Regions from separate parts of the Homo sapiens genome. Here region 2 is linked to region 1. The links come from fine-mapping of genetic effects on gene expression. A gene starts in region 1. The other region holds a variant in brackets. All regions are shown on one strand. Distances are between the middles of the regions.

Region 1 (4,401 bases):
TACATTAACAAAAATTAAAAGTAACCCAGAACATTTAATTACTCATTCTCCCAATGTTTGGAATAATGTTACACTGTAACTTTTAAAGTGATTTTACTAGCTCTATTACCTATCCAATTCTAAGGGAATATATATTCTAAAACCAACCTACTATTAACAACATAGACAAAAGAAGGCCAAGTAGCCACAGTTTCCTTAATTAAGCACCAGATATTAAAATTAATCAGTTCTGTTACCAAAGATATTCAAAAGCCCACTCAAATATAAAGTTAGAATCTTCTAATCTTCAAACTGTGATACCAAAGGTGGTGACTAAAAGATATTTGTAAGCTTCTGGAAGTACAATATCTACAAAAATACACTCAATACCATTTTTAATGGTTTCAAAATAGTTCAATCATTTCACCTCAACAATTTAAACTTCATGATTATCTGCTCAGAATCTGCAATCTCCTCCAACAAAATACTGTGTAAAATAGAGATTTTCCCCACTCATCCCAATGCAAAAGACTAATAATAATCTTTTGTTCAGTACATCTCCTGCTAAAGAATTTAATCCCCACAAAAGCTCACAAAGTTTCTCAAAAAAAAATTTTTTTAGGCATTTTACAATGGCAAATGAGGAGCTAAAATTATTTAATAAGACAAATTCTATTACATTATTTTACTTCTATCGCTACTATTTCCCAATAGATTCTGTTTAAAATTTCCCTTAGCAATAATCTATGGTCTTACAAACTGGTTTAGTAGTTAGGTGGACTGTGACTGGATGGGGGCATGAGGAGAATTTCTGGGGTGCTGATAATGTTCTGTTTCTTGATCTGGGTGCTGATTACACGAGTGTGTTCTACTTGTAAAAATTCTTCAAGCTCTATGTGTACTATATGTATGTGGCATGTATGTGATACTATATCACATATACATATAATCATAAAAGTAATCCAGAACTTGTAGGGCTGTCCTCGAGTCCCCTCCTCCATATTAAAACACCTGTTCTATGCCCTGAAACACTTCTTTGCAAAAACAGAATTCAAGTTAAAGGACCTAACATCTTCTTTCTACTGGCATGTTCCCAGGTAACAGGTAACTTCTATTTGCAACTGGGAGTTCATACAAACCAACAGAAAAACTTGCTTTTTATTTTCCCAAATTAATCCTTTTAAAAGCAAACTGAATAGAAGAAAAATGAGTAAGCGCTGTTATTGCCCAGACTATGCTGCAAATCATTTTCAACTCTGTTAAATGGATTTAGGAAGGAAAAGAAAGATCATCACTTCAGACTCTAGTAAGATAAAAACAGAAGGCGGCTAGAAAGAACTTAATGGAAAGGGTACTATAAACTAGAAGTCTATTTGTGTTTTAGCCCAAATTTTACTACTAATTAGATATTGTAGGCAAATCAAACACGGGAGGCAACAGTACCTGCTCAGAGGAATGAATGAAATAAAATTCATGAAAGTAGTATGTCAAGATTTAATACGAAATATTCAATGACTGGCAAGAACGCTTGGGAAGTAGCCTTTTCTCTTTCACTTGTCCAGCAAATAAAAATTGCATGTATGTGACATACATACCTGTATGTCGCAACCGTAATTCAGCTCTCTCTTTTTTACTTTTTCTGAACTGATAACCTCCCAAAGTTAAATCTAAGCACTGAAATTCTCCCGCGGTGGAAGCAGTGGCGTGTCATTAAAAAGGAGCTTGATCCTCACCTAAACCACACTCTCATCTTTCACCTACAGAGCCCAGGAAGGAAAACATTTCCCTCTAAGTCCGACAGAACCGATCCAGCCTTTCCGGATGAAATGCCACCGACCAAATGTTCACCGACCAAAGGGTTCACCGACTCCAAGGGCTCACCACTTTAGACGGCAATCCTGCCAAGTGGACCGGGAATAGTTTCATAGAAGCCACCCTCGCGACTTTCAATAGCAGTTAGTCGGGAATCGAGCCAAACCTCGTCCAAGTGACTTAGACACCAGCCTCCAGCCTGGCGAATCCAATCCCCATCCTCAATCACACATCCACGTCCCCAAAACAAATCCTTCACGGTCTGAAGATGAGATGGCAAAACCAGAACACACCCAGAAAGTTGACACAGAAGGGGGTGATGTAGGGAAGGGGGTGGGGGACACACCGCATCCCCCTCCCACCCCCAACTGGAGGCCGCTGCCTGAGTGCTGGCTGGGCGCCGGTTCGCCCGCGGGCACAGAAGAATTCGCACTCCCGGGGTGGAGCGAGGTCGCCGGACAGGCCAGCTGGGACCGACGCCGTCGTGGCGGGGACTCGCGGACACCCTGACATTGAAGTCCCACGGCAGTCGCGGTCGGCCCTCTCTCCGCCCGACCCCGTCGGGCAAAGAGACCTGTCGGCCGGGTGGGGAGAGAGAGCGCGCGGGGAGCGCCCGCTCCAGCCCGGGAAAGCTGCACGGCTACGGGCCTTCTTACCCGTGCAGGCCGAGGGCGCGGCGCCGCTTGTGGAGCAGGCAGAGCAGCAGGAACGCGGCACCAGCCAGCGAGGAGTTTCGCGCCGTCAAGTACTTGCTGAAGGCCGCCATGGCACTGCCGGTACCAGCGAGCCGGCGAGGGGACGCGGCGGCGGCGGCGGCGGCGGCTACCTTACTGCACGCAGCGCGGGGGAGACTGGGAGGAGAGCAGAGGGCGGGGCCGGCCGCGCAGGACCGCCCCCTGGCTCGCGCCGCCGCGCCGCCCGCGCTCTGGAGCCCACTTTGTACTTTGGCCCGGCGGGAGCGCGCTCGGCAGCCTCCGTGGGCGGAACAGTTCCCGGGACGCGCTCTGCGCACGCGCGGACTCCTTCAGGGTCTCCGGAAACGCGGCGCGGAGGAGCTGTTGCTACTCAGCCCTGCGAGGCGTCAGTGCTGCCCCTGCCTCACCCCTACCCTCCCACTCTTCGCGCGCACACCCCGGCTTTCACAATAACTGGATGAGCGGGCCTGGCCTGCAGCGACGACCTAGTGGGCCCTGCCTCTCCACTCCCGCGGTGATGTACCGTTACCACCCTCTTAAAGGAGCCCAGGAAGGAGGCGGACGGCCCCGTCACAGAGCGTGTAGGGAAAACACAGCACAGTGATTATCAGGACGAAACCAAACAATCGGAACTCCGCAGAGGTGTAGGGAGATGTGAGGAGAATGACACAGATCAAAGAGCTTTTTCCAAGCCAGTATTTTCCAAACCGCGGGTTATAATCTCTAGCGCATTGTGAAATTGGTTTGGTAGATCGGGATCATCACCCTCCGTTTTTAATAAAATTGAGAATAGAACAAAATAGAAAAGTTTCACAGTACATCACGTAGTAAAGGAGTTGTTTAGAGAAATTTCGATTTCAGTGTTTTGCACGTATGTATCGCCAGCGGCGATGTAAAATGTATGCAGATCTGGTCAGAAAAAAGTTTGAGAAACACTGTTCTTTGCAAAGGGACATTCAGAAGTAACAATCGTGCGTTGTATTAATGCTGGCCTCACTCCCAGAATCAGAAGGGCTTTGCAGATTACAACATTCTTCTCCTGTCTGACCCTATGTTGCAGGAATTGTTATCGCCAGCATTGAGCCTAGCATATATACAGTAACAGTGAATCGCTGTTTTCAGCTGAGGAAACTGGAGAAAAGCAAGTGTGTCAGAAAATAAGCTCATAAAACCTCGCATAATGCACATACATATTAAAGTAGCCTACAAAGTAGTGGTGCTGTGCCCTAGGTGTTTTCTCAATATAAATGAGCTGTTGCCTAATACAGGTTATGAGGATCACAAAGACGAGGTACAATAATGGCATGCGTATAGAGGTGCTCAACAGTGAATTCTAAATTATGCAGAACTGAAGCTCCTACTAATTCACTATTTGTCATGTGGACATTTTCATTACCTGGAGGGACAAAAGGTTTTGGCCCTCTGAAAGTTAACTGAAAACCGCTGACATAAGGCAGATTAATAGAAGAAAAAATTAATAGGAGAAAAGGCATACAAATTTAATGTGTATACATGGGAGCGTTCAGAATGGAGACCCAAAGATACTTGGAAAATTGTCCATTTTTGTGTTTAGGTTCAACAAAGTATGGACAGCTATGTAGAAATGTGATTGGACAAAAATGGTATAATCTAATGCTAACAGACTGAGTGGGGACACCCAGCAAGGCCTGTCTAGATTCTTCTTGGCCTTCTGAGCACCATTCCTTCCTTCTGGGTATAGGGCAGGAATGGAATGGAGCTCTTAACAGCCTACAGTCAAACAAGGCAGGTCAGATAATTTCTTTATGGCCAGATTTTACAGAAAAAGGGGGAGGGAAAACTAGCAAAATATGTTTAGGCTTTTATGGCTGGCTTTAGGGGATAGAGGTTCTGGTTTCTACATCTTGTCTTGAGGAATAGGGATCCTAATATCTAT
Region 2 (4,401 bases), 99 kb before region 1:
ATGGTCTGCAATTAACCATTATACAGCAATGAAAGTGAAGGAATTATGGTCACACTTACCATGGATCAATCAGCCTCACAATACTGAGGGAAAGAAGCCATACACAGAAGGGTATCTAATATATATAAAGTCCAGAAACAGGCAAAACCAATTTATGTGATAGAAGTCAGGAGCTAATAATTGGAAGAGAACAAGAAGGAGCCTTTAGTGCTGTAACAATGTTCTATTTCATTTGGTGTTTGGGTGTGGTTACCAGTGTGTATGCTTTCTTATAAATTTATCAATGTTTTTGTACATATACTACAATAAAATGTTTACAAATTTAAAAAATGATTTAACTACATGAGGGGATGTGGCAGAAACAAAGGTGGTAGGGAATGTCTAAAATTGATAAATCAAGAAATGGCTATAAAGGCATATTGTTTAAAAAAATGAAATGCAATTACACCAACTAGAAGAGTTTAAAATCGTTGCTCCTAAGGTTTGGAGGGGATTGCTTTTCAGTTTTTTTGGCACTTTCTTAAAGTGACATGCATATGTTATGTATATGGAAATGGTCAGAACATTCCAATTCTTCACAAAGGAAAAATCACTAATGTAGGTTTAAAAAAAAAGAGACAGCTTCCTGCAGCTAACAATGTCAAAGTCCATCTGTTAGAAGAAAATTCATTCTGCTTCTCAGCACAAATTATGATTTTAAACACCAAATTTAAAAGTTAAAACTTTACATAAAGTAATGCCAGATGCTATCATATCACCGGTTTTAAGCCAAATGTTAATCATTCAGAAAGGGGAGAAAGAGACAAATGCTAGATATATTTTATTCTATTAATGCAAAACAAACTACCATTGCTGTTTCATACTTATTTTCTCATTATATAAAAAGTAAAAACTTATTATGAGAACACGGTGATATGTCTTGGCATGCAGCGTGGTGCTCATGGATGAAAGTTCTTATTCTTTGGTTTATTCTTCGGATTAAACTACCATTTCCCACTGCAGTTTCTGGAAGGTGTTAATAGGAATTATGTAGAAAAAGATGTTCCGTGGTCAATCATGTTTTTGAACCAATGGATTTCTTTACTGTGGGTCTTCGAAGAACCACTATTATGTTAATGTGATTCTCCAGAAGGATCTTCCTCTGTGCCTCAAATGGTGAGGCACTGTAATATTTGTTACATAAAAAAGAAAATAATTAAGAAAAAAAGCCCAAATTGTTGTTGTTGTTGTTTTGATGGCAAGAATCATAACAAAAGCAATTATAAGGCAGCTAGGAGAATACTTCTACGAGTAGGTTTAAGGTAACCCAGAAATCTGAAAATCTGAAACTTTCCCATGCCTTAAAATCTTTTCCAAGACGAATAGTATCTTTTAAGGTCTCCTGGCTGTTTGGTAGCATTTGTCAGGTACACAGATTTTACTGAACTTTTCTAAAAGAGAAATTCATTCAATTAAAAACCACACTTGGCAAAACTTTAAAAAAGAGACACTGTGCTAAAAGCATTTTCTGAATTTATTTTTGTGTTTTTCAAGTCAAGATTAAACTATCTATGTTTTCAAGTCAAGGCTGAATTATAAATGAACTTCTCAGTATTTAGATACCAGAATAAAAAGAACAAGCAAAGGTTGTATAGGATATCTGAGTTTTTTTTTTTTTTTTTTAATCTGAACAGAAAATAAGTATACAAGTTCGCTAAACAGAAGTGGTAAAAATTGAATGTTATGTATTATGGAATTCAGTACATCAGTTTACTTCGGTAGCCAGTGATTGTTATAGTTAATTCTGCAAAAAAACAAAACCAGTTATGCAAAAACAAGAGTACAAAATGCCCCTTTCTGAAGCTCAGTTTGAGAAACTGATTTCGTATCTAGCTTATTGATTATACTCAGTTTCAATTCTCCCTGTGCAAATAATACATAAAGTCATTAATGATGATTTGATGAACTGAAATCATCTTCGCTTAGGATCGTTTGACATCATAACCCAAATATAAAAAAGTTATTCAAGATTCACAGAGATAAAACAGTGCCTCGGAAACATAATTCACCCATGTATATATAATAATTTTAGAACATACTTTTTAAACATAAAATCACAGTCAAAGACAGTGATAGCATTGCATACTCAGTGCATTATTTCATGTAGTGCCTTCCTATGGCTCATTTGGAGTTTAATACCAAATAACCACCACACTTCTAATGAATGGGCTTCTAACACACACAAATTTGTCTAATTCTCTTAAAAATCTAGAACTCTTATAAGACCTTGAGCCTGGCATGTTAAGGACTTTGTGTTTTAATATCCCAAACATTGGGAAGATTAGGTGTGATACATGGTAACCCCTCCTTGTAAGCAAGACTGCACATATACTTTAAACAACTCAATACTGCAGACTGAGAGGGGTACATTTATCATTTAGTTAAGGAAAACCAAAATGGCTTTTCCTGGAGTCAAATGCACTCCAAGACACACACAAGGAATGAGTATTACTGTGGCAGCTAAAGAAATCT[G/A]CCACTGTATAATAAACGCTGTTATGCAATGATGTTAAACATTTAAATAATACATTATGATTTGTTTCCAACTACCACAGGGCACAGGAAAATGAAACTGAAGACTATCTTGCTAGAACAGGACAAATGATGACCCAGTTTTAAATAGGGTTCTTCACTGAAGGAAAAGATAGAGCCATAAAAGTCCAATTAGCTGACTTCGAATGGTTTACATCCCAGGATGAATCAGGTTACAGTGATTGAAGCCCAATTTAATTTAGGCAGGTTTTTAACCACAAGAATAAGGACATTCTTAGTACATATTATTAATTAAACCAACATATACACAATTAGCAATATCCTATATAATATTAAATGTTTTAACAACTTGTTCTCCATTATTCTGTATCTAGTTAATTTGTTGCTTTGTTTTTTTTTTTAAAAAAAACTAAGCTCAACTTTATTTTACAATGTACTTTGCCTTTCTAAGTATATTCTGTAATTATTTCACTGAAGCAGGTATAGTTCTCCAGATTTCTCTAAGAGCCAAACTCAACTGTATCTTCTGTTATCTGTTTGAATTCATAGTTGCCTCTGCCATCCATATGCAGGTAGTACTATGGGAAAGAAGGGGGAAAAAAAGTCAGTAACTAAGAGTGAATATAGTACTGTCTTTTATGAAAAGTAAAATACAGACTTCCTCATTATTTTAAGGGAGCTAAATCTATAAGCATCCCACAAATCAGAATGCTTCCGTAACTCCATGACCAAGGATCTCAGCTACCAGTAGGTTAAACTGTGCTAAATGCAAGACTGTTCCATAGGTCAGTCAGTATTGTTTCCTGTAGCCTGATTTCCTAATCAGCTTGAAATCTCCAGCTTAAGGCTTTTTATTTGTTTTTAATTTAGTAGAGGGGAAAAAGAGCTATAAAAACTGCCGATATATCCTAACCTCTGAAGACACAACAGCAGTTACAAAGCCTTCTGTTTTTATTTAGTGGCTTATTTTCAGAAAGCTTTCTGAGTTTCCATTTTCTGTATTACTATTTCTTAGCTATCCTGGCCCCTCACATTCTAGTTGTGTTCCCCTCCTTCACATGATCACTGGCGTGATGATTATTTTGCTACTTGTCTATACCTCCAAAAGAAGAGGAAGGGTGAAACCCAAATGCTCTCAATTCCTCTCAATGTCCTATGGCTATAATACTTATGAACTTCCGAGAAAACATAAAGGCTTGGCTATATTTTAAATGCCTTTGATTTCTAGTTATTCAATTTCCTGCTCAGTTCATGAAAAATTGACAAGTTATAATATGCCATAAAATAATAAAAGCTATCTTTAAAAGTCACACAGTTATATAGAATTTCACTGAATTTTATTAAGTACTTTCATATAGGCTACCTGTCTAATTTTCATGGTAATCTAAGAGATAGGAAGGTAAGGCTCAATAACTTCATTATACAAAGGAAGCAACTGAGGCTAGAAACTTTGGTGCCTGAACCCAGGCTCTCTGACTTCAAATCCTATGCTCTTCATTTTATCACTTGTAGACTATCATCTACATCCTAAAGTTCTTGAAGGTAAAAACTGTAATTAATTTGCATCCCTCATGACACTTAGCTCAGTATCTGGCAAAAAAAGGTCCTTAATCAGGTATGTATTTTGTGGAACAAGGCACCTTTACCATTATTCCAATTTTTCTCAAATCCTTGCTTTTACCTAAAATTTCTATATCATTTAGGAAGGAAAAGAAGGAAAGAAGAGAAGAAAGGAAAGAGGGAAGGGGGAAAGACAGAAAGGAAAGAAGAAAAGAAAGGAAGGAAGAAAGGAAGGGAGGGAGGGAGGGAGGAGGAAAGAAAATAAAGAGAATTAAACTGGGTTTACTTTCAGGTTTTGAGCATTTCACATTG

Which allele goes with the higher level. Positions count from the first base shown, and alleles are read on the strand shown. Sizes are in standard deviations (SD) of each study's normalised expression.
As copies of A replace G in region 2, the expression in lung of the gene that starts at base 2,647 in region 1 goes up (small effect, 0.22 SD a copy in GTEx).

The links. PIP is the estimated chance that this variant, and not a neighbour inherited with it, causes the effect.
Region 2: its variant is the best candidate, but not a certain one, in a credible set for the expression of ABCD3 in lung (GTEx, PIP 0.73).

What each region holds. Positions count from the first base shown.
Region 1 is chr1:94,416,635-94,421,035 of GRCh38, reverse strand. It overlaps ABCD3 (ATP binding cassette subfamily D member 3), which reads right to left and starts at 2,647. Exons shown (of 23, transcript NM_002858.4): 1 at 2,448-2,647. The coding sequence starts at 2,557. RefSeq lists enhancers at 2,056-2,195, 2,667-3,458 and a silencer at 2,526-2,905.
Region 2 is chr1:94,515,758-94,520,158 of GRCh38, reverse strand. ABCD3 (ATP binding cassette subfamily D member 3) reads right to left here. Exons shown (of 23, transcript NM_002858.4): 23 at 1,496-3,107. The coding sequence ends at 3,030. Among named protein-coding and RNA genes, the nearest start is that of F3, 24 kb to the left of the region's middle. The variant G/A (reference allele first, on the strand shown) is at 2,512.